7 linked regions of the Homo sapiens genome follow. The protein of the gene in region 3 purifies or fractionates together with the protein of the main gene of each other region. This does not show direct contact. Each region holds a gene or a part of one and is shown on either strand. Other genes may lie near its edges. The genes, in order: PLD2, RCC2, RPS6KB1, TERT, GTF2I, PPP2R2B and RIN2.

Evidence for each region.
Region 1: the proteins of RPS6KB1 (region 3) and PLD2 purify together in Homo sapiens (affinity purification with western blotting, with the first as the bait; one study listed by BioGRID). This does not show direct contact.
Region 2: the proteins of RPS6KB1 (region 3) and RCC2 fractionate together in Homo sapiens (co-fractionation; one large-scale study listed by BioGRID). This does not show direct contact.
Region 4: the proteins of RPS6KB1 (region 3) and TERT purify together in Homo sapiens (affinity purification with western blotting, with the first as the bait; one study listed by BioGRID). This does not show direct contact.
Region 5: the proteins of RPS6KB1 (region 3) and GTF2I fractionate together in Homo sapiens (co-fractionation; one large-scale study listed by BioGRID). This does not show direct contact.
Region 6: the proteins of RPS6KB1 (region 3) and PPP2R2B purify together in Homo sapiens (co-immunoprecipitation; one study listed by IntAct). This does not show direct contact.
Region 7: the proteins of RPS6KB1 (region 3) and RIN2 purify together in Homo sapiens (affinity purification with mass spectrometry, with the first as the bait; one large-scale study listed by BioGRID). This does not show direct contact.

The regions. Positions count from the first base shown.
Region 1 is NC_000017.11:4,813,652-4,817,151, reverse strand, and holds part of PLD2 (phospholipase D2), read right to left. Parts: intron 2,735-3,500; coding exon 2,651-2,734; intron 2,520-2,650; coding exon 2,441-2,519; intron 1,677-2,440; coding exon 1,566-1,676; intron 1,389-1,565; coding exon 1,218-1,388; intron 611-1,217; coding exon of another isoform or gene 572-610; exon of another isoform or gene 533-571; coding exon 406-532; intron 216-405; coding exon 97-215; intron 77-96; coding exon of another isoform or gene 7-76; coding exon 1-6.
Region 2 is NC_000001.11:17,412,178-17,415,677, forward strand, and holds part of RCC2 (protein RCC2), read right to left. Parts: intron 1,541-3,500; coding exon 1,360-1,540; intron 1,002-1,359; coding exon 896-1,001; intron 18-895; coding exon 1-17. UniProt on the Homo sapiens protein: Multifunctional protein that may affect its functions by regulating the activity of small GTPases, such as RAC1 and RALA. Required for normal progress through the cell cycle, both during interphase and during mitosis.
Region 3 is NC_000017.11:59,931,121-59,934,620, reverse strand, and holds part of RPS6KB1 (ribosomal protein S6 kinase beta-1), read right to left. Parts: intron 3,000-3,500; coding exon 2,899-2,999; intron 452-2,898; coding exon 361-451; intron 188-360; coding exon 97-187; exon of another isoform or gene 93-96; intron 1-92. UniProt on the Homo sapiens protein: Serine/threonine-protein kinase that acts downstream of mTOR signaling in response to growth factors and nutrients to promote cell proliferation, cell growth and cell cycle progression.
Region 4 is NC_000005.10:1,264,069-1,267,568, forward strand, and holds part of TERT (telomerase reverse transcriptase), read right to left. Parts: intron 2,468-3,500; coding exon 2,396-2,467; intron 525-2,395; coding exon 336-524; intron 1-335. UniProt on the Homo sapiens protein: Telomerase is a ribonucleoprotein enzyme essential for the replication of chromosome termini in most eukaryotes. Active in progenitor and cancer cells. Inactive, or very low activity, in normal somatic cells.
Region 5 is NC_000007.14:74,744,718-74,748,217, forward strand, and holds part of GTF2I (general transcription factor II-I), read left to right. Parts: intron 1-40; coding exon 41-224; intron 225-1,165; coding exon 1,166-1,224; intron 1,225-1,619; coding exon 1,620-1,694; intron 1,695-3,297; coding exon 3,298-3,399; intron 3,400-3,500. UniProt on the Homo sapiens protein: Interacts with the basal transcription machinery by coordinating the formation of a multiprotein complex at the C-FOS promoter, and linking specific signal responsive activator complexes.
Region 6 is NC_000005.10:146,644,758-146,648,257, forward strand, and holds part of PPP2R2B (serine/threonine-protein phosphatase 2A 55 kDa regulatory subunit B beta isoform), read right to left. Parts: intron 1-3,500. UniProt on the Homo sapiens protein: The B regulatory subunit might modulate substrate selectivity and catalytic activity, and might also direct the localization of the catalytic enzyme to a particular subcellular compartment.
Region 7 is NC_000020.11:19,764,758-19,768,257, forward strand, and holds part of RIN2 (ras and Rab interactor 2), read left to right. Parts: intron 1-3,500. UniProt on the Homo sapiens protein: Ras effector protein. May function as an upstream activator and/or downstream effector for RAB5B in endocytic pathway. May function as a guanine nucleotide exchange (GEF) of RAB5B, required for activating the RAB5 proteins by exchanging bound GDP for free GTP.

The sequences.
Region 1 (3,500 bases), about 55 Mb from region 3:
GGTGGTCTGACGTGGAGGGATGGCAGAGTCAGCAGGAGGTGCCAATCTGCCCTGGCTCCCTCCCTACCTCCAGCCCCTATCGGAGGGAATGAACACCTTGGTGAAGTTCCAGCGCTGGATGAAGTGCCGGGCAAGGTCCCGGGCCGGTAGGCCATGGACGACCACCCCAACGTCCCGCCATGGCATCCGAGGGGTCGTCTCCCTGTCAATGAAATCTGGGGGGTCCCAGGAGAGTCAGGGGAGATGTCAGGGCTGGACTCCTTGGGACACTTGGGGCAGGGAGAAAGAGCCTGCCAGAGGGAGGGCTGTACCACCGTTGACCCCTCTCATCCCACTCTCAGTACCAGCCCCAGCTTCTGACCCTGCTCTCAGCTCTCTGGGGCTTTGGCGGGTGGGAGGCTTCACCTTCGAAAGGCCGGTCCAGCTGCACCCAGTCCTTGGTGATAAGATTGCTGTAGTCCTTGCCCAGCCAGAAGAATTGGTTGTGAGAGAGGTCTGGGGTGGCTGGTGAGTCTGGGCGCGGGGTGGGAGGCTGTAGGGGGAACACACCCAAGCCAGGGGCAAGGGGAAGTCATGGGGCTGTACAGAGCCAGGGCCAAAGAGAGGAGCACTGAAAGAGTGAGAGAGACCGAGAGGAAGAATGAAACAGAGGGTCTGATTCCCCAGCCCTCCCCTCCAGTTGCCTTTGACACTTTTAGAGGAATGGGGTGATGGTCAGTGAAAATGGGGAAAGGACTGGGTGGGTGACAGCACTTTTTTTTTTTTTTTTGAGACAGAGTCTCGCTCTGTTGCCCAGGGTGGAGTACAATGGCACAATCTCGGCTCACTGCAACCTCCGCCTCCTGGGTTCAAGTGATTCTCCTGCCTCAGCCTCCCGAGTAGCTTCAATGACAGGCAACTGCCACCATGCCCAGCTAATTTTTTGCATTTTTAGTAGAGACAGGGTTTCACCATGTCGGTCAGGCTGGTCTCGAACTCCAGACCTCAGGTGATCCACCCGCCTTGGCCTCCCAAAGTGCTGGGATTACAGGCATAAGCCATGGCTCCCGGCCAGTTACAGCACTTTCAAAGTGGGTTCTTGGAGTCCCAGAAAGTCTGAGGAACCCTGAGGTTGGCAGGGCCTGGAATGACTGAGGGGGTAAGGCTGGAGCTGGGAAATGGTGTTGATTGAGCTTATCTGAGTTTGGGGGTGCTCAGGAAGGCCTCAGGGGGATTACCTGGGAGGCAGCTGATTCAGAGGAGTCTCCAAGGTCAGTCAGTCGGTAGTGCAGGTCATCCCAGCGGCCATAGGCAAGGTCCAGTCCCCCCAGGAATGCTACCACTTGGTCCACCACCAGGAGCTTCTCATGATGGGCCCACAACGTCACTTGGTCTGGGTGACGCATCACCTGGAGCAGGCATGGAGGGTTCATGAGGGTGGGTTTAGGTGAAGGAAAACAGGAGGTACTGGGAGGGAGAGAGGAAAGATGGAAAGATGAGACCATCAGGGAGCGGGAGCGCTGGGGGCTGGGACAGTGTGGGGAGAAGGGCTGTCATGTGGGAGGGTCTCTGAGGCCGAGAGTCACCTTTATGTTGGGGTGCAGCAGCATCAGCGCCCTCTTGCTATAGCCACTGTTGATGCCCAAGGCCAATTCCACTTCTTTAAACAGCAGAATAGACACACGGACACCCTCCTCCTGGTGGTGAGTTGGGGAATCAGATCCTAGTGCCTCTCCCAGAGTAGCCCCTTTCCACACTCCCAAACCTTTTCCACGTGTGTCCCTCCAGCTTGTCTGGAGATCCTAGAGGCTCTGCCACATATGCCCTGCTTTGCTGCTTGCCACAGACTTAGACTAAATGTCATCTGTGTGCTCACCCACTCACCCATCCACACATCTATCCACCCACCCTTCATCATCCATCCATCCATCTTCCCAAGCATTTACTCATCCCTTTATGTACCGTCTATCATTCATCCATCTACCTGCCTACCCTCCTAGCCCTCCACCTTTCCAACTCATATCCTTCCATCCATCACCCTTTCTGTCCTCTATCCATCCACCTGCCCAGCCACCCTGCATCATCCATGCATCCTTCTTCCTGTCCATCAACACCACACATGCCCCCTCCATGGCAGGTACTGTGCCTTGTAGTGGAACAGTGATATTAACTAGTCCAGTGAGAGAGATAGACATGTATACCCCCAGATAACACAATAAAGTATTATGTATACTGGGAGGGAAGTCTCTGCCAGGTGGAGGGAGCATGAAGAGGAAGTTGTCAGTTCTCCTTAGGGCAGAGGGAGAGGGCGGAGGTGATGTCTGACAGGTGCTGGGCCAGGATGGACACTTTTCCCTCCCCTGAAGCCTCAGACTGCCTAATTCTCCCACACTGCAGCCCTGCTAATCAACCTCCACCCACAGGCAACCCCCTCCCCCTGCGGCCTGACCACTCTCCTCACCGCCTTCCTCTTGAGCATAATGTCCAGTCTCCAGTCATCTGAATGGGCCGGACGCTTCAGGTAAACCTCAGGACTCAACCTGGGATTCAGGGCAGTGGATTAGGGGCAAACGAAGCCCCAGACCACCAGCTGCACCCCCCTTCTCCTCCTAATGCTGATCTGCCCCAGGCTCTATCCTGCCCCATGTTGTTGGGGCCTTTTCCCACTCACCACCAGTCTGTGATGAAAATCTCCTCTTGAGCTCGAAGGATGGCATCTGCCACAGCAGCAAAGTAACCTGCCCCATTCACAAACCTGGGGGGAGGCCAAGCCAAGGAGGTCAGGGGAGTCAGAAGCCAGAAAGCTCTGGAGAGTGAAGACCGGAGGACAGTCGTGGGTCAGAGGTGACAGCAAGGTCAAAGATCAGAAATGATCAGAGAACACAAGTGGTATCAGACACATCAAAATAGTGTTTGCCCATATGCGCTAAATACAAATAAAAATTACAAAAAGACACAATAACCTAATCAACTAAAGAACAGGAGGATTAATACATCATACATAAAGAACACCAATAAATCGACAAGAAAAAGTCACATGAGCCAACTGAAAAATGAGCAAAGAGTAAGAACTGACAGTTCACAGAGAAATTAAAATGGCCAATCGTGGCAAATGTTCAGTTTCACTAGTAAACAACGAAATTAAAATGAAATTACATTTAAAAAATCCATTAGATTGGTAATAATTCAAATCACTGGTAACATTCAATATCAATATTCAATATGCTGGGGAAGTGGGTATTCTCATAGACTATGGGAATATAACTTTTAGGAGACAATTTGGCAGTATCAAAAAATATATATATAGCTTTTTGGAGATGGTGTCCCGCTCTGTCACCCAGGCTGGAGTGCAATGGCATGATCTTGGCTCACTGCAACCTCCGCCTCTTGGGTTCAAGCAATTTTCCTGTCTCAGCCTCCCAAGTAACTGAAATTACAGGCGCCCGCCACCACGCCTGGCTAATTTTTGTATTTTTAGTAGAGACGGGTTTTTGCCATGTTGGCCAGGTTGGTCTTGAACT
Region 2 (3,500 bases), on a different chromosome or scaffold from region 3:
CAATGATGCTGCTCTTCCTGCAAACAGGCAGGCTGTCACTGCAGGGCCAGCAGCCCCAGACCTGCACCCACGCAGCTATGGCTCAAGGGCATGAGTGTGAGCTGCCACTTTTCCCTTGGCGTACTCATTCCAAGTAGCAAACACAATAACAGGGCCAACAGGTTTCTCCTCAATCCTAAGATTGTTCCGTGCAGGCCACTCAACGCTTCAACAAAACAACAAAGCCCTTAGACAGGCCTAGGGGCCAAAGGCAGGGGACCTTGCTGTGCATCCTGCACAGCTCTCTCTCAGTGGGAGGTCGCTTTGGGAAGAGGAGACCAGATCAGGATAAAGTGAAAGCCTGTTCCAGAGGGAGCAGCCTTCATGCATAATGATTTGGGCAGGGCTAGAGCCTTCAACAGATTAAAGCCACGCCGACAGAGGCCCCTCATACTGTTCCACCCACACCTGCCAGCTGATAAATCCAACTCCTCAGCAAGAAGTGCTAGCTAACTCAACAGGTGTCCTGAAATGAACTACAAACCACTGCTGCCAAGACAATGTCGTCTTCCCAGTGTCACAGCAACTCAAGTCCTGCTACGTTTCCAACTACGTATAATTTTCAACCTGCAGCGTAGGAATACATCAAGCTCTGCTTGTTTATTTCTTTGAACAGAAACCTTCAAAATGACTTTCTTCCCACAAGACAGGGAACAGCCATCTGTTCTAGCAGCAAATGGGCCCTCTCCCCTCCTGTACCCCCGGACTCTGGGATTCAGTGTGTCAGATGGCCTGCTGAGGACAGCCCAACAGGCAGCAGAAACAGAGCCCCATCAGGGAGGGGCACCCCATGGGTGTGTCTGACACCCCCATGAAAGGAAGAGACCTCATACCCACAGGAGATGCTGCCACCTACCCACAAGCCAGGCTCCGGATTCTCCAGCCGCAGAGGTCCTGCACTGCTTTTGGGTACATGGTAGATTCACGGGAGGTGTTGGTGGCCCCCCAGAAAAACAGACCACCTAAGGGAAGACAAAACATGTTCCCAGCGTGACCAGACATCGAGAGCTGAGTCTCATCTTCAGTATTATCAGGGTGAAAAGAGGACGGGATGGCAAACAAGTGTTCTGTCTAAAAGATAACTGGAGCCAGGCGTGGTGGCGTGCCTGTGCAGTCCTAGCTACTCAGGACGCTGTGGTGGTAGGACTGCTTGAGCCCAGGAGTTCGACACCGGCCTGGACAACACAACGAGTTCCTGTCTCAAAAAAATAAAGAACACTGGGAGGTAAAGAGAATTGGGGTTCGTGGTCTAGGGACAGGACAATGGCTACACGGTTCCGCACCAGAGCACTGATAAGCCAGGGGGCAGAAATCACTAACCCACTTCACTGACAGCAAAGGAGCAGGTGTAACCAGCATAGATCTGGGAAGCCCCACGCCCAGGGAAGTCAAACAGCTTCACCAGGCGGGGGACCATCTCATCCTTCTGCTCTGCGTGGCCCAGCCGGCCATAGCCACCAAAGCCCCAGGAGAAGACTCGCTTCTGGGAGTCCAGGACCAGCTGCAAGGAAAGAAAACACAGGGTTGGAACAAACAGACTTCCAACAGGCAACAAGAGGGGTCATCGTTTCTGTGCAGACAACCTGGTGCAAATGCTAAGGGCAAAGGAACAGCAACATTCAAGATCCCCTACCAGCCGGGCACGGTGGTTCACATCTAATCCCAACACTTTGGGAGGCCAAGGTGGGTGGATCACTTGAGGTCAGGAGTTTGAGACCAGCCTGGCCAACATGGTGAAACCCTGTCTCCAAAAACCAAAGAAATATCCTTTGCCTGCCTCCAGCAGAAAGATCCTCTACCTCCCGCCTCCAGCAGTGGGGGAGGAGGCAACAGGAGCAAGTGTAGCAAAATGGCATGCATTCAATAAGCCCAGTTTGCTATTTTCTCTGCCAGGGACTCCATTTTCCAATCCTTTTTTGTTCTGTTTATTTATTTAAGTTACAAGTCTTAACCCTTTCCTTAATCAGAAGCAACAGGGCTATGTCTCCTGAGAGTTGGGCAATCATTTGATTCCCACTACAACAGAGATTCGGCCAGATGCAGTGGCTCATGCCTGTAATCCTAGCACGTTGGGAGGCTGAGGCAGGTGGATTGCCTGAACTCAGGAATTCAAGACCAGCCTGGGCAACATGGTGAAACCCATCTCTACTAAAATACAAAAAAATTAGCTGGGCACAGTGGTGTGCACCTGTAATCCCAGCTACTCAGGAGGCTGAGACAGGAGAATCTCTTGAACCTGGGAGGCGGAGGCTGCAGTGAGCCGAGATAGCGTCACTGCACTCCAGCCTGGGTGACGGAATGAGACTCCATCTCAAAAAAAAAAAACAAAACGAAACAAAAAAAAAAACACAACAAAAAAAAAACAGATTCAATTGCAGAAAGAACAGAAAAGGCCTACCTGTTCCTGGATTTTTCGTTTCTTTTCCCCCCCTCGAGAGGGTCTCGTGCTCTGTTACCTAGGCTGGAATGCAATGGCACGATCACGGCTCACCACAACCTCCACCTCCTGGGCTCAAGCGATTCTCCTACCTCAGCCTCCCAAGTCGCTAGGACTTGGGTGTGCACCACCATGCCCAGCTGATTTTTGTGGTTTTTTTGTAGAGATGGGGGTCTCACCATGTTGCTCAGGCTGGTCTCAAATGATCTGCCCACCTTGGCCTCCCAAAGTCCTCTGATTACAAACATGAACCACTGCGCCCGGCCTGGATTTTTCTTTAGACTTCCCTCACCCACAGGTACAGAGGTAACCTGTACCTGGTCACTGATGAAATGAACTCAGAGACACTTCAAGTGTTTAAGATTTATCTTCTTCAGTCTCGTTTTCCCATCTTCTGACATGCCAATTCAGTTCTTTGATGTTTCATGTCTAAACCATGGGAATCTACAACTTACTAAAAAACTTGGCCTATAAGGCCCTAAACAAGAGCCAACTTTATTTCCCCTGACTACATCAGACAAAACAAATCAGTTTTTGGACTTGCACAAACTGAAATCTCCTACCCTAGTCCTAGCCCAATTCCCTGGGCATTCTTCATCGGCAAGAAGATTCCAAGGGAAGGAGGTGGTGAGCTGAGACCACTCAGTGGGGAGGACCAACTTGATCTCTGGAATCCTAGCCCAGGCTTTTTCAACAAAGCATAGAACAAAGAGACTCCTAGGCATTCTCAGACAGAAGAACCACAGGAAGGCCATTAAAATTAAAAGATACACTAACAGCCGGGCGCGGTGGCTCACACCTATAATCCCAGCACTTTGGGAGGCCGAGGCAGGTGGATCACGAGGTCAGGAGTTTGAGACCAGCCTGGCCAACATGGTGAAACCCCATCTCTACTAAAAATACAAAATTAGCCAGGAATGGTGGCAGGTGCCTCTAATCCCAGCTACTCAGGAGGCTGAGGCAGGAGAATAGCTTGAAACAGGAAGACAGAGGTTGCAGTGAGTTGAGATCCCACCACTGCATT
Region 3 (3,500 bases):
CCACTGGTAACATGTTCAGAAAGCACAGGACAGGTCTCTTGCTATAGTGACTCAGCACAGACCAATAATACATGCAGCTTTTAACTGTGCACCTACTGCTCCAGTCAGCATGTCATACATTAATGCTCCCAAACTCCACCAATCCACAGCACGATTGTGGCCACTTCTCATCAAGATTTCAGGGGCCCTACAATGAGGAAAATAATATGCTTAAAAATTCACCCATTTGCATATCATCTGAATTAGAATTTTAAAAACAATATACAGAGTCAATGAGGGTACAGAAAACAGATACTATTCCTTAAAACAGGTAAAATTAGCTATTACCCCCAAACCAATTATGTTTAACATGTAGCTCACATGTATTCTATTGTTCCACAAAATGTGTGTGTGACTGTTCCATCATGAATAGATTCTTTGCATAGTCCAAAGTCTGTTAGTTTCACATGACCTACAATGAAAGATTACAGCATGATTATTCTCCGAATTATAAGTATGTGCAGTGTTTGAACATGTCACATAATACTTTAATCTATCCTTCCATTTAACTTTTCTTGCCTCAAATTTTCTTGCAGATGTCAAGAACAAGGTACCATCCATAAAATGGGATGCTAACTGTTTAAGGCTAGGGCAAAGTCACCTTTTGCCAATGATACAATCTATCTAGTAAAGAGAAAATAAAGATAGAGAAAAAAGTGAAATAACCTGTTTAAGGCTCTAGCTTTAAGTATATACAAAATTCTCTACCATCCTGAAAAAGAAAAATCCTGGGAAAACTGTTTTATGAAGTCTAGTTTACGTACACAGACCCCAATAAACATACTCTGTACCTTTTGAACAAAGGTGTGAGACAGTACTTCAAATATATAGCTTTTATCACAGTGAACTGTGAAGAGTCCTTAAAATGGTCTCAGAAACTCATTATAACAAGGTAGCTCATTCTGCCCAATGCTACCAATTAGGGGAAAGAAAGAAAATTGCTAGATAGTATGAATCAATCATCACTGATCCAGAAAGTAAAAAACTTACCACCTTACACAAAGATCATTTCAGTTCAAGTTTAGCTTTCTTTACTGGACTGTCATAACAAGTGGTTCAACAATCTCAGGGACTCTAGTATTTGAGGTTCATTTCACAGAAAAGGCACAATGACCTATTGATTCAAATGTAAATATATACTACACTCTGATACAGAAGAAGTATGGCCTTTATTTTCACAGAACCATCTGATACACTCAACCTTATAAATCAAAGAAGTTAACTATTCTATCGCTCCCCTATTCTATCCTGTGACTTATAATTCAGATCAGAATCCACGTTTTGGGGAGTGAGGAGGTGTTGATGAGAGGAAGGAAGAGACACTGATTCCCATGATATATTCAGTTAAGTATATCATTTCTCCTTAAAAAAAAAAAAAAGGTGGGTGGAGGAGTATAATCTGGAATGTTTATATGAGCCTCAGTTGTTCATACATCATTTTCTAAGAGTTTGAAACAATTAACTACCTCATGGATTATTCTGTAGACATCTAAGGATTAGCAGCTGCTACCACCTTCTAGATACCCTGGGTCAGCTGGTTGCTCCTTTGGGGTACGAGTGAATTGCCAAGTCTACCTACAGCCCAGATTAGCATAAATTGAGCTGTCTTTAGCAGCATGCAGTTGTAGTCAAGGCTCACTGTGCTATATCTATAGTTGTATAGATTATCAGTCTCTCTGATGTTTATGTTTGTTGTTACAAACAAACAGCAAGAATAAACTGATTCTGGCTGGGGGGAAGGTGGGTTATGCCTGTAATCCCAGCAATTTGGGAGGCCAAGGCAGGCAGATCAATTGAGCTCAGGAGTTTGAGACCACCCTGGGCAACATGATGAAACCCCATTTCTACAAAAAATACCAAAAATTAGTCAGGCGTGGTGGTGTGCCACAGTGGCCCCAGCTACTTGAGGGGCCGGGGTGGAAGGATCACTTGAGCCTGGGAGGCGGAGGTTGCAGTGAGCTGTAATCATGCCACCATACTCTAGCCTGGATGACAGAGTGAGACCCCCATCTCAAAAAAAAAAAAAAAAAAGTAACCTGATGCCTACTAAACATCATATTTCCAAAGTTTTATCAAATACTTTGGTTCAATTTCAATCCTTTTCCCAGCATTAATAAAACCTACTGTAAGAAGCATAGCTTCTAATATTCACATATTTTCTTTTTTTTTGAGACGGAGTCTCGCTCTTTTCACTCAGGCTGGAGTATAATGTCGCGATCTTGGCTCACTGCAACTTTCGCCTCCTGGGTTCAGGCGATTCTCCCACCTCAGCCTCCTGAGTAGCTGGGATTACAGGCACCCACCATCATGCCCAGCTAATTTTTTTTTTTTTTTGTATTTTTGTAGAGATGGGGTTTCACCATGTTGGCCAGGCGTCTTGAACTCCTGACCTCAGGTGATCCACCCACCTTAGCCTCCCAAAGTGCTGGGATTACAGGTGTCAGCCACTGTGCCCAGCCAATATTTACATATTTTCATTATTAAAACTCAACTTATATAATTGAGATTCACTTTTCAATTTAAGTAACAAGCCAAAATTAATGTTTAGACTGGCTTTTACAGTCTAAAACATTATACAACATTTGATGTAAAGATTCCAAAAACATGAAAAACTATAAAGAGTAAGGATTAAACTAAAAAAGGCAGTTGAGCGACTATTATCCTCAACTTCTTTTACTCTCACCAAGCGTAATTACCTAAAGACTTAAAATATCAGCAAGTACTATGATGCCATGAATTCTGAGGGAGGAAATATACAAAATAGAGAGATGAATTTGGGGCTTTGAAAATGGCCACGACCTATGTGGGAGGATTTTAAGATGATTATTTACTATAGAATTGTTTACGGTATGTCTCCACCTTGGTGATTAAGCATGATATTCTCCGGCTTCAGGTCTCTGTAGATGATCCCCTTTTGATGTAAATGCCCCAAAGCCATGGAGATTTCTGCCAAGTAAAAGCTGGAAACAAAAGTGATTTAATAAAATTAAAAAGAGTGTAATCTATCCAAAGCAGTTTACGTATGGAGCAAAATTCCTTGAAAGAAACAGACATGCACCAAAGACCAAATTAGTGGGGTAGGGGGATGTATTGGAAAAAGAGATGGCATAGGATGCTGCCAAAAGGCATGGGGACATTTATGTTTCACTCATTTTAGTGAAACTATAAAGTGCTTTATTTTGCCATTAGAATATATTGCTAAAATTGCAAAGATGTCCAGAATATGCTAAACTGCCATTGGTCATGTTTTGTTCTGTCTGTGTAGGAATTAAGCTAATAGCCATTCATTTCAAGCAAATTTCTCCCATCCACACCCAACTTTAAAATCCCATAGGAAATAGGAACTTTGTTATTCTCAGAGATCACATCTTGATTTCAAAAGGTATCTTATAACCTGACCCTTAGAAGCCCACTCATCCCTTACTTAATACAGCTACATATTTATAGACAGCTGAGGCCCA
Region 4 (3,500 bases), on a different chromosome or scaffold from region 3:
TTCGGGTTTGGAGAGACTCACGCCCAGCAGGGCCCGGGCGTCTTGGGTTCGGATCCAGACTGCTTTCTGAAGACACCTCAGTGCACCCAGGTCTGGTGCACCATTTCCTTTTACCAAAATAGCACAGAAAACTGCTCCCGTTGTGAGCACCCTCACTCCCACAGAAAGATGCATTTCTGCTCAGCCCCAGATGGGACGAGGGGCACCCTGTGGCCTCTGACCCTTTGGGATTGGCAGTCGCCTGCCCCACACGGAAGCAGAGGTGGACGCAACGGCCCTGCAGCAGCACCTGCCCCAGCCGGGCACAGGCTCCACTTCCGGCCAGGTGCGCTCACCTGGAGTAGTCGCTCTGCACCTCCAGGGTCCGGGTATCCAGCAGCAGGCCGCACCAGGGGAATAGGCCGTGGGCCGGCATCTGAACAAAAGCCGTGCCACCCAGGGCCTCGTCTTCTACAGGGAAGTTCACCACTGTCTTCCGCAAGTTCACCACGCAGCCATACTCAGGGACACCTCGGACCAGGGTCCTAAGGCAGAGGGGCAATGTCAGCCCCAGGATGCGGGGCCGTCACCCAGGAGGTAACCTGACACCCTTGTTAAATGCTTTGGAAAACCCCAGAGAAGTGGTGATTTGGAGCAGGGTGCTGGGCCTGGCAGGAGCTCTGAGGAGCCTGGACCCAGCCCTGCTCCAGACTTCGGGGTGCTTTCCCTGTCTCCCGGGCAGGACAGGTAGGTGAGCATGCAAGAACCTGGCCTGGACCCGGGACAGCCAGGACTCAGATGGGAGGTGCAGCCCCAGTGGCCTCTGTGATGGTCCATCTCATGTGTCCCCATGGCAACACCACAATCCCGTTATAGACTCATCTGTGGTCCGGGGCAGACTAAAATCTGGACAAGAAATTGCCACCATCCCACCTTCTTTTAAGACGTTTCTCAACGACTTTGCCTGTTTTCTCCTAGATGCCCTGAAGGCATCTGCTGTGCTTTAGACAAAGGGGAGGGTTCTGAGTTCCTGCTCAGGCGCGGGACCTGGCTGGGCTGTGAGCTGGGCAACACCAGTCGTCAGCTTCACGTCAAGGAGGTTCCCTCGCCGAGTCATGAGCCTCGCTCACCCAGCTCAGGGAGCCCCCCTGTGCCCGGTAGCCTCTGCTCTGGCCTGGGCATCCCCTTCCCTTCCTGCGGCCTCTGCTGTGGCCCCGGGCGTCCCCCTGCCCTTCCTGTGGCCTGGCCCTGGGACCTCGGCCAGCTGCGCAGCTCCCCTGGTGCATTCCCAGCTCCCTGTGGCCACCCCTTCCTGTTACATGGCTGCCGACTCATCAGAGACAGAGTTCTGCCCCCGGTGGGACCCCAACATACACTCTGAGCCACCTCCCTGGCCAGCACCCTCAGGAACTTGCCACACAGAAGCAGCGTTCCCCGTCTGCTCTGTCCCCTCAGCAGCCTCAGGACTCCTGAGCCCTCAGTTGCTTGGGACCTGGGCTCCCCCCGAGTGAATCTTAGTGGATTTAAATGTGCACAGCCTGCTGTGCTCCGGGCTGCGGCACAAGGAACGCCAGGCATACCCCCAGCCCAGGGCGGCCCTGGAGGGTGGACCTGGAGGGTGGACTTGGAGGGCGGGTCCAAATGGGTTTTCACAAACACAGCCCAGCAAAGCACCTGAAACCACCCCTGGCGGCCACATTTTCTGAGGGTTCCCTTTACAGCTTTCAAGGTTTCTCGTCCCTCGTCAAATCGCACTTTAAAACAAGCCCACCGGCTCTGTGGGGCGCCCTTGAGGGGGACCACATTGGACAATCCCCTGTGCTGAGGCCAGGTCCCCTGTGCCTGATTTTAGTTTGATTCACAAAAATCAACTCTGAAACCCACTCCTAGCCATCTCCGTGGTTCAAGACAGCAGCACTCAGCAAATCCAAATTCTCCCACCGATCCCAAACAACCCCACGCAGGAACGTGACCGCAGCGAACGCTGTGGGCCAGCTCACTCAGCAGCTCCTGCTCTCCGCAGGCTCAGGTGCACCCTGGGGAGGAGGCTGCCGCCTCGGCCCTGCAGGCCCTGTGCACAGCTCCTGGGGGTCTCACTGGGGCCCCAGGAGCCGCCACTCTTGACTTTCCAAAGAGCAGCAGGAGCCAGGTCACCGCCTGCACTCACCACGTGTGTAACCTGGGTGCGTCTCTGCAGGACCAGGGCCTGCACGGTACCCACTCCCTCCCGAAGGTGCCCCTGCGCCCCCAGGCCTGGGTGCACGGCCAAGCGCCTCTGCTCTTGCGGATCCAGCACCGGCAGAGAGAGAGGACTTGGCAGAGACAACGCTGCGGTGCCAGGGGCAGGACACGGGGGGCTCAACTGCAAAGCCCACAGGCTGTGGAGGTCCCCACAGACACACGGCACGGGCCTCACCTGAGGAAGGTTTTCGCGTGGGTGAGGTGAGGTGTCACCAACAAGAAATCATCCACCAAACGCAGGAGCAGCCTAAAATAAGGGAAAATACACAGCAAGGTTAACTTTACACTTTTTACGTAGTATCTGTCTACGAGGGACTGAATGTCAAACAATTTACACAGCCATAAATAAAGTAACATTCTCCAAAGCGGTTAAATGAAAAACTTAAATTTCTTTCCAACAGACGAGCTCTCTACAGTTAACTGCTACAGCAATTCCTCATTCATTATAAGTACTCAGTGTTTACCATCAGCTTGTGCAATTCTGTGCCAGCTGAAGACGAACGAAGGCCATCAGGCGCGGCCCCACTTCTCAGACTCTTAGGGAAAAATAACTGAAGACGGTAAGAAAGCTGGGGCTGGGAACCTCGCCCCCTCTGAGCCACGTGGTGCCCTTTACCAGCATGGCAGCTGTGGTCCTCAGCATGATCCGAGACCCAGATCCTATCCACAGGAAGCTGGGCATGGTGCACTGTGTGACCCTCAGGCCCAAGCCCAGCGCCCCATGACCATGGGCCAGAGGTATCCTGTCCCAGAGGGCTGACCAGTGTGCCGCCAGCTCGAGGACACTTTCCTCCAAATCCCAGAGCAAGTTGTGTGTACAAGAAATTTTTGTTTCTGTTACATAAACTTATTTCAATCTAGAACTTGAACCTTAATGAAGAAGAACCTTGATCCACTGTACATGCTATAATTGGAGCTAGAGTTTCAAAAGATGCACAGGAAAAACCCGGAGTCTTCGAGAGAAATGGCTGTGTGGCCTGCAGGCTTCCTGACGCATCCTTCACTAACTGTCTGCTTGTTCAGTGATACTATTTTCATAAAAAAATAACTGCTGTCCACATCCTCTCCAGCACCAGAACACTTTTACACTGTTGGTGGGAGTGTAAACTAGTTCAACCATTGTGGAAGACAGTGTGGTGATTCCTCAAGGATCTAGAACTAGAAATACCATTTGACCCAGCCATCCCATTACTGGGTATATACCCAAAGGATTATAAATCATGCTGCTATAAAGACACATGCACACGTATGTTTATTGCGGCACTATTCACAGTAGCAAA
Region 5 (3,500 bases), on a different chromosome or scaffold from region 3:
ATGTTATCCTCCGCAACTTAACGTTCTCTTGCACTTTCAGCTCAAGCTCTTGGACTCACCGAGGCAGTAAAAGTACCATATCCTGTGTTTGAATCAAACCCGGAGTTCTTGTATGTGGAAGGCTTGCCAGAGGGGATTCCCTTCCGAAGCCCTACCTGGTTTGGAATTCCACGACTTGAAAGGATCGTCCGCGGGAGTAATAAAATCAAGTTCGTTGTTAAAAAGTAAGTTCTTTTTGCCACTGTAGTCGTTTCTGGAATCAAAACAATAAAATGACATTTCTGTTAAGATGTTTTTCAAGCTAGAGGTGACAGGCGTGGCTGTAAGTCCTTGATGGCAAAGCCTGGCTGTGAGCTGCAGTCCGGGTACTGTCCATTGCCCCTGCCCATACTCAATCATCTTCATCCGTGCAAGGAAAATAGTGACAATCGCCTCCGCGGAGTCACCGTGAGGCCCCGTGGTGACTCGCAGTATGCCTGAGTACTTGAATGGAAGTTTAATTTGCTGGTTTTTATCTGCTCTGTTATTCCTGGTCAATCTTGAGAGCGACTAAATATTGATGATTGAGTTTCTTTCTTTTTTTTGAGACGGACTCTTGCTCTGTCGCCCAGGCTTGAGTGCGGTGGCGCAATCTCAGCTCACTGCAACCTCCGCCTCCTGGGTTCGAGCAATTCTCGTGCCTCAGCCTCCCGAGTAGCTGGGATTACAGACTTGCACCGCCACGCCTGGCTAATTTTTGTATTTTTAGAATAGATGGAGCTTCACCGTGTTGGCTAGGCTGGTCTGGAATTCCTGACCTCAGGTGATCCACCCGCCTCAGCCTCCCAGAATGCTGGGATTACAGGCATGAGCCACCGTGCACGGCCTAATGATTGATTTTCTTATCTACATTTCTGCAGAATTTTAGTGGCTAAAGAAAGTACACTAGTGTTTTTTTTTTCTTTTTTAATGAAAATAGTCACTTATTTACTCTTCATAAAATGGCTTACCAGTCATGGGAAGGAAAAGTCAGGGTCTTTTGTCCACAACACTAGGAATTATTGTGTTACAGGATGATTCTGTGAATGCCTTTAGAAAAAAAACCCTGATCACATCACGACCGTTTTACTAGCTGTGAGGCCACCACTGTGCTGGCTACTGTAACACTTCTTGGTTTTCTTTCTAGACCTGAACTAGTTATTTCCTACTTGCCTCCTGGGATGGCTAGTAAAATAAACACTAAAGGTAAGAGACGACGTGTACTCCGTATCCTATTTGAGCGCATTAAGACACTCTTTATCCGCATTCCTTAAATCATACGGAATCGGCCAATATCTCTGTGGGGCTTGGAGTTGTTTACTTTGCTTTCTAAGGTATTTTATTTAATGGAACTATTTTTCTTTTTTTTTTTTAAAAAAACAAAACATTTCATTGGAAATGTCACATTTGCAATCCCAGTTCATTCATGTTTTCACAGCTTTGTTGAGCCCCTGTGGAGGATTACACTACAAGTTTAATTCTGCAGGTTTCTTTGAAAAGAACCAAACTGTATGAATTTTAATACTCTGCTCTTATAAAGCATCTCCTTCTGTATTTTTTTTTCCCTACAATATACAAAAGGAACTCTGCTTATTTTACAGCTTTGCAGTCCCCCAAAAGACCACGAAGTCCTGGGAGTAATTCAAAGGTTCCTGAAATTGAGGTCACCGTGGAAGGTAAGGGCCAGTCCTCGGTATGTTTCTGTTCATTCTCTAGTTTACTAATTATGTCAGTTCACTAGCTATGTGTTTATACAGGTTTATACAGATGACGTTAACCAAACTAGCTTTTAACTGTGAACAGCTGCCTGTGATAAAGCTAAATTTCTGAATGCTTCTAATTGAAAATTTTTAAATCCTTAATAGAAAACAGATAACATGGATCACATCATAAACTTCCCCCAAGAAAAGTCCTAAAATGCTTTTCCTTTATCATAACAAATAAGGGTGCAGAGTCATGTGGAATGTTTTATCTTTTTTTTCCTCTTCATTTTTTTCTATTGTTTTAAGGAAAGAAAGTTTAGGGTGGTTTAAACAGCAGTGCCTTGAATAAAAGTATTTTCTTTTTCTTTTTTGAGACAGAGTCTGGCTCTCTTGCCCAGGGTGGAGTGCAGTGGCACAATCTCGGCTCACTGCAGCCTCCGCCTCCCGGGTTCAAGTGATTCTCCTGCCTCAGCCTCCCAGGTAGCTGGGATTACAGGCGTCCACCACCAACTCCAGCTAATTTTTATATCTTTAGTAGAGACGGGGTTTTACCACGTTGGCCAGGCTGGTCTCGAACCCCTGACCTCAAGTGAGCCACCACGCCCAGCTGGTTCTTGTCTTTTCAGGCTCACAGTGTTAAAATACTGCATACAATACTAAAGACAATCTCCAACCAACTGTCAAGTATGGATATTTCTTCCATCTCTTCATAAATGCAGAAGGAAATCACTGCATTAGGATCATTCTCTACATCCCAGGTGTCAAGTTTTTAAATAAGAGTTTGCCGTACTGGTGTTGAGTGGCGCAGAAGTCCCTATTTAGTCATGTGGCACACTTTCAGAGAGCCTGCTTTCTCATAAGATAGCCAACAAGCATCCATGGACAACTTACACCTGATTAATTATTTCTGTTCAAAAATGCCAAGAATTAAAAATATATTGAACCCTTGACTTTCCTCCTTCCGGAAGAGATCAGAGGAAGATCTCTCTTATATACAAGATGCCAGCCTTTCCTAAAGGGCAGAGCCAAGTTCACGGGGCCTGGGAGGCCTGCTTTAAGAATACAAAATTAGGGCCAGGCGTGGAGGCTCACGCCTGTAATCCCAGCACTTTGGGAGGCCGAGGCAGGCGGATCACCTGAGGTTGGGAGATCGAGACCAGCCTGACCAACATGGAGAAACCCCATCTCTACTGAAAATACAAAATTATCTGGGCCTGGTGGCGCATGCCTGTAATCCCAGCTACTCAGGAGGCTGAGGCAAGACAATCGCTTGAAACCAGGAGGCAGAGGTTGTGGTGAGCCGAGATTGCGCCATTGCACTCCAGCCTGGGCAACAAGAGCGAAACTTTGTCTCAAAAAAAAAAAAAAAAAAGAAGAAGAAGAAGAAGAGAAGAAAAATGGGTTTCTGTAGAAATAGAAAAATGGTTTCTGTGGAACTCGCCGGAATGACAAGAATACCCATTTCAATTTGAACCTAGCTTTGTTTTCTGGCACAGGCTGGACTTGAAGATTGTAACCTAGAGACACTTACGTCATTAAATGTGTGTTGATTATCATTATTTTTTCTGTCTTTTAGGCCCTAATAACAACAATCCTCAAACCTCAGCTGTTCGAACCCCGACCCAGACTAACGGTTCTAACGTTCCCTTCAAGCCACGAGGGAGAGAGTTTTCCTTTGGTAAGTAAGCGTTTTATTTTTCTTTCTTTCATAGTTTTAAATAGAATACGTTCATTATGTTTCATTTTACCAGGTGAATTGTTCCTATTGGTGAGTCAGTA
Region 6 (3,500 bases), on a different chromosome or scaffold from region 3:
ATTAAACAAGATAATGGAAAAGATAATTTAAGTGGTTTTACACTGGAGTGAATATTCCTTCTTCTGAAGGAAGCACATATTTCTCCAAGGATAGGGTTTATATGCATTGCCTTTGTGAGGTGACTTTCATATGCCTCTGTCCCTTTGCTGCTGATTTTGCTAATACTGACATGCGTATTTCCCCAATTCCTGTCTAAGCCAATGGAGGATAAGAGAGCCAAGTAGGACGCTTTTCTGCAGGGCTGAGTATTATAAACATTGGCCAAGCTGAAGAGTGGAATCTATGTTTACCAGGGTAAAGTACCCACATTCAAAAGCAGCTGAGGCTTTTCATATCCCACTTAAAGTCTGCCAGTACTGAAGGTAGAAAATAGTAATATCTTTGTGTGAACACAGCGTATTTGTTTGATGAGTGTGATTTCCTTTTAGGGACATGAGTTGCTTTGAGATCTTTTTCCCTTTCCATGGTCTAAATTTAATCTTTGGATATTAAGCAATGATTATGAAACATAAAGATCTTATTAGCTGAAAGGACATGTTGCTTGATGATGAGACACTGGAAATCTCCAAAGAGGACTCCAAGGGATATTCCTCTCTTAAGAGCTTAAAAAAAAGTCAATGTGTAAATATTCATGGAGTGTTTGCCAATTCCTAGGCTCAATATGAGGAGACTGACAAAGAGACACATGGTGTCATATTAAATATGTATTGGGCAGGGTGAAAGCCACTGAAGCAGCAACAGGGGAGAAACTTGTACTAGACCCCACAGTTCCCCTGGAAGCCTGCCTGGCAGAATCCCACTGAATTAAAAGGAAGCTGCTGTCCATGGTAGTAATGAGTGCTAGAACCTGGAAGCCAAGAGTTGAGGCTACCTGGTCCCTTAATTAGGGAATCGACTCTAACAGGGCTTCAGCTTGGTTGACAAATAAAATGAAGCCACTGTACAGGGTTGTTAGGACCAAGGTCAAAGTTGAAGTATCCCTAGAGTCCAGCTGGCTTCTCCCAGATAAGTCCTCTATCTCATATTCAGAGACTGGACTTCTGAAAGGTGAGGCTTCTGCTACCCTTCCCAGCCTTGCTTACTCCATGCTCCACTTCACTCTCTGGGCTTCAAAAATAGTGGCCTTCTTAGAATTCCTCCAACATGTCATACTCTCTCCTGCCACAGGACCTCTGTACACACTGAACACATGTCTCCACACCTCTTTGCCAAGTTAGTTCATAGTCTTCCTCTTTCAGATCTTAACTAATTCTTCAGCAAAGCCTTCCCTGGTCTATAGCAGGATTTTTAAAAATGCATTCATAGAACCATATTCCCTGTCTTCACAGAAATTATCTCAGTTTGTAATTATATACTCAGTGTATTTGATGAACATTACTCTGAAAGCGGCAAATTTGTTTTTTCCCATTTTCATGCCTGGCACAAACTAGGTGCTCAATTTATCATCGTTGAGGGCTAGTCTTTATTTTTACTCGATATGGGCCTATTTAATAGATCCCATGTTGGACAAGGTAAGAACTCAGGTCAGTTCATTCTTAGTCCTGCAAAAAGAGTTCAAAGGATTCTAGGTATACCATAGTTTTCATAAAGAAGCAACATCTTTTAATATAAATTTTCATTTATTGCTATTGTCTCTTGCCCTAGAAAACTACTAATCTATTAATGAGTTGTTATAGTCCTGATGTAGTTAGCCTATTAAGACGAAAGTTTGACTGCTTATGTGGGAAACTGTTACACAAGACAAGGACAGACTGGCTATGGATGGAAGGGAGAGAATTCATGACCAGTTATCATGAGGTTTAGAAATGCCTTGCTCTGATCTGGTGCTAAACACAAGGCCCTAGACCTCAGAGTTCCTGAAAACATTTAGTAACTAGGGGGCAGCATCTTGCAAAGGACACCCAACTGCAGAACCAAAGGAAGAGTCTAGAATTGAAAAGACAATCCAGATAATAAAATTAGCAGAATAAAAGCTACCATTCTAATGTTCAACTTTTCTAGTTTCCTTGTTCTCTCAATAATTATCATGATTGTGCTAGTCCTGTTTACTGAGCATTTGCTTAGCAAGGCACTACCCTAAATGTGTGCGTGCGTATGTGTGTGTGTGTGTGTTTAATTTTCATAATCCTCTCGTGATAGAGCTGCTTTCTACAGATGAACAAAATGAGAAATGGAGGCTTGGATAGATTAAGAACATGTTAAAGCTTATACAGCCAGAAAAGTGGTAGGGCTGGGTGAGACCTCTATCACTTGTTGGACTCTGAAGCCTGAGTTCTCAACCGTAATGCCAAAGTCACACCAAATGCCAGTCACAGGAAGTCATGACTGTTTTCTAACCATATCTCCAGATCCCTTGTCTCACTATTTACTTAATGCTTTACATACACTTACTTTGTAATCTAAATAGATTTTGAATATCTATGAAATTGTAGGATATGATGGTTATGTTTTTTGACGTTCACTATTGCTTAGAAGCACATTGCTTACCATCCCCAGTAGTAGCCACACTATGCTTTGGGAATCCCAAATTATTCTATCCTGAACCATGTTTCTTCTGTCTCCTTTGTGAATAAGGGGCATTGTGGAAATGAGACCTGCCTGGTGGCTGGTATTTTTCTGAGACTGTTTTGAAAGATGGCCGCTTCCTACCCCAGAGGTGGCTATACTTCAGTGATGAGAGGCTCAGTGCTTAGGGCGGTCTGGTTGAAAAGAACTATATAGATATCACTTATCATCGTTCTCATGATGACAATGATTATTTTACATATGGCTGCTTTAAGGGTGAATGGCACGGTCTCATTTGTATGCCAGCATCTGGCAGTCTGTCACACATCTGCAGAATATAACCTAAACTGCGCTGTTAATATTTCCCCTTTGCATTCTCCCCAAGGCATCTGTCTCCCAAAATGCCTAAAGAAACTCCCCTCCCCCTTGAAGGCCTAGAGGCAAAATTCAGAAAACATGTCACCTAGACTGGGGAAGCAGAAGCTCAGAGTGACAGCCAGCTGAGCCTGAGCAGATTTCTGGCTCTTGGAATAGATGGAGAGAGAAAAAGGGAACCACCACCCACACTCATTCTATTAGCAGCTGCACTGCCAGGCAAAATCTGTAGGCAGGCCCAGACAGCATGTGGAGTCTGTTCCGTGATCAACAAAATATGCCAGGCATGGTCCTGATGGTCAGTTCTCATTGTCTCCAAATATATCTCATAATTGCCACTATCTGATTAAAGCTGCCTTCCCTGAAAGCCCTTGGAGACGGTTGAGTGCTCTCCATGGTGGAGACTAGCTAGCTGTGTACCAAAACCGGGTCTTTTTATCCTGGGCACACAGCCAGACTACATTTCCTAGGCTGCCTTGCAGTTAAGAGTTAGCCATGTGGCTGAATTCTAGCCAATGGAATGCATACTTTTTTAGGGCATGGCTCAGAGGAATCTCCCACTTGTGATCTTCCATGACCTTCCCCTTTTACAGTCCTGCTATAAACATGGTAACATTGG
Region 7 (3,500 bases), on a different chromosome or scaffold from region 3:
ATTTGGCAGGTGGTTTATAGAGTAGGAACAAAAGTTTATTCCTTTTTCCCCATAGTTTTCCCCTAGGTCTGGCATCATTTGGTGAATAAACCTGCCTTTCCCCAGCTCCATAACACATACAAATTCTACTAGGAAGGGCAAGTCCCACTTCACTTTCTGCGTTTTTTTTTTTTTTTTTTTTTTTTTGACAGAGTCTTGCTCTGTCTCCCAGGCAGGAGTGCAGTGGCATGATCTCAGCTCACTGCAACCTCTGCCTACCAGGTTGTACTTTTAGTAGAGACGGGGTTTCACCATGTTGGCCAGGCTGGTCTCGAACTCCTGACCTAAAGTGATCCACCTGCCTCAGCCTCCCAAAGTGCTGGGATTACAGGCGTGAGCCACCGTGCCAGGCCACTTTCTGCCCTTTTATCTTCTCCCCCACCCCCAAATCTTCTTGGCAAATTCACTTATTAATTCTTCCAGTGAAATTTTATTCCAGGGGATTTGTTTGGAATTATATTAAGCCTAATTTGGGAAGACCCGAAAGATAGTTTGGGATCCTCTTTTTCTGGGAAACCATGACATTGAATTAGAGCCAGTGGGCATTGATTGTATGTGTTCAGGCCACACATGCACACTGATCCCTGGGGTGGCTGGTGAGGAAGGCACAAACCCAGACTGGAGGAGACTGGCTTCTGGTTTCAGCTCTGCTGGGAGGTGTGGGACCTTGGCTGGCTCAAAGGTTCATTTGCACTCATGTGTGTAGGCGCTCCTTTAGGATTCCAGGCTTCAAGGACCTAGCAGCCTAGCAGGGGATACTTACACAGACTGGGAAGGGCAGGACAGTGTGGTCAGTGCTTGACTTGAGAGACAGACATACTTGTGTTGAGTTTGAACTGGAAGACCCCTAATTCAAGTTCTTTGTTGCTTTCCTTTGCAATGGTTTTTCTCCTTGATAATTTAGGGATCCCACAAAGTCAGAGGCTCTTGTCTTTTTAGAAAAGGCATTTATCCCTCTTCCTTTTATGAAGTAAGCACAGGGATCTTGGGGGTGGGATGGGGTGGGTTTAGGAGATTCCTCTGGCTCTCTGCTAGACTAATGTTGTTGAAGGAAGGTGACTTCATCCTCATGGATGGCAAGACCCTTTGGAAGGTTTCATGGCTTGTGAGAAAAGGAGGCTACAGAGGGAGGGAGGGAAGGAGGGACAGCCAGTGGGATGGACCAGGCACAGATGGGGAGAATGGTCCTCCTAGGTTGACGGAGGCGCTTTATTAGGGTGGCTTCTTCAAAGCTTCTTATCCCCTCAGTCCTGTGAGGTCTGATGTCTGAAGTGACAGTCAGACAGCTCCCTGTCCTTCCCTCATGGTGGGAGGCTGCTCCTGGCCATCTGTCATGGATGGGGCACCCACCCATCCTCTCTGTATTCCGGGATTCCTGCCTTAACAGATGGTGTGTGTTTCGTATGACAAACACTGTCTCTGGGCACACCTCATACCCTAGTTTTCCCCAATATTTGCAGCTAATGTCTTTCCCTAAACAGTTTACAGGATGACCTTAGACCACATATATGATCTAAATAATACAAATAACCTACTACACTTTAGTATCAGCTTAGGCACTCTCCCTCTTTTAAACTGTGCTTCCATGGGACGTTGGGATCAGAGGTAGAGTCATTTCAAAGAACAGGGCTAGGAAAGGGCAGATTCAAGGTTGGTTCCCAGACCACTTTCTATTCAAGGGCAATGTGGTTGCATACAGAAGGGGTACTTCATCCTTTCCTGGGCATCAGAAAAGGATTCACAATGGAAGAGATGTCTAAGCTACGGTGGATGGAATCATCAGTGTTAACTAATAACACGTGGGTTCCAGGCAGGAGCGGCAAGTACAAAGAGTGAGAAATAAGCTGGGTGTGATGGCTCACACCTGTAATCCCAGCACTTTGAGAGGCTGAGGCAGGCAGATCACTTGAAGTCAGGAGTTCAAGACCACCCTGGCCAATATGGTGAAACCCCATCTCTACTACAAATGCAAAAATTAGCTGGGCGTTGTGGCACGCACCTGCTACTCGGGAGATTGAGGCAAGAGAATTGCTTGAACCCGGGAGGCGGAGGTTGCAGTGAGCTGAGATCGCGCCACTGCACTCCAGCCTGGGCAATAGCGTGAGACTCCATCTCAGAAAAAAAAAAAAAAGAAAAAAAAGAGTGAGAAACAAGAGAGGCTTGGAGCACCTAGGGAAGGAACGTGGAGTTTGTAGGGGCCAAGGGAAAAGTTCTCCTTCACCTGCTGAAGGTTTGCTGTAAAATCAACTCAGAAAAGGCAGGTTAATTGGGGAAAAGGCATACAGATTTACTTAACGTGTCTACAGAGGAGCCTTCAGAATGAAGACCCAAAATACAGGGGAAATTGTGTTTATGTTTAGGTTCAACAAATATGGACAGCCGTGTAGAAATGTGACTGGACAAACAGTCTGATTGAGTGCGAACAGACTGCTTGGGGAGATCCAGCAAGGCCTGTCTGTCTAGATTCCTCCTGGTCTCTCTGAGCAGCATTCCTTTCTTCCAGGTATGGAGCTGACCCTCTCCGGAATGCTCTTATGACCTATAGTTAGTCACAGTAGGTCAGACAGTTTCTTTATGGCCAGTTTTTACACAGAATGGTGGAGGGAAAGTTACAGCAGTAAGTTTAGGTTTTGTGGCTGGCTCTGGGGAAAAGAGGTTATGGGTCCTATGACCCACTTTGAAGGAGAATTCTAGTTTCTCTGGCTAGCCTCAGGGAGGATGGGACTGAGAGACCAGAGGGCAGGAGGTCAGAGAATGACTTTTGCTTCTGAGGCCCTCATTTTGGGGTACTGTTTTCTGAGCTCCTGCGAGTTCATTATGGCACCACTTAGAATGCGAGGCTCCTGGCCAGGCGTGGTGGCTCACTCCTGTAATCCCAGGACTTTGTGGGGGCTAAGGCGGGTGGATCACCTGAGGTCAGGAGTTCGAGACCAGCCTGGCCAACATGGCGAAACCCTGTCTCTACTAAAAATACAAAAATTAGCTGGGCGTGGTGGCAGGTGCCCATAATCCCAGCTACTCAGGAGGCTGAGGTAGGAGAATCACTTGAACCTGAGAGGCAGAGGTTGCAGGGAGCCGAGATCACGCCACTGCACTCCAGCCTGGGCAACAGAGCAAAACTGTCTCAAAAAAAAAAAAAAAAATCAATGCAAGTCTCCTGCGAAACATGGAGAGAGACGGAGGATGTGACCCAGACCCTCTGAGGGCTTCAGTCCAGGGAGGGAGGCAAGAACTGTACCTGCAGGACAAGTGGAGGACAACTTAGGAGAGCGTCATGTCCCAATGATCCAGACTGTGTGTCACGATGGAGAAAGTCTGTGAGGGAAACAAACCAGGTTCTGCCTGGTCTCTCCCTATGTTTTGATCTAAATAGCATCTCAGGCTCCTTGTCTATAACAGGAGATGAGGGAAGGTCTCAGACCAGGTTCCCTAGAAGCAGACCCCGAGGTGAGGATTCATGG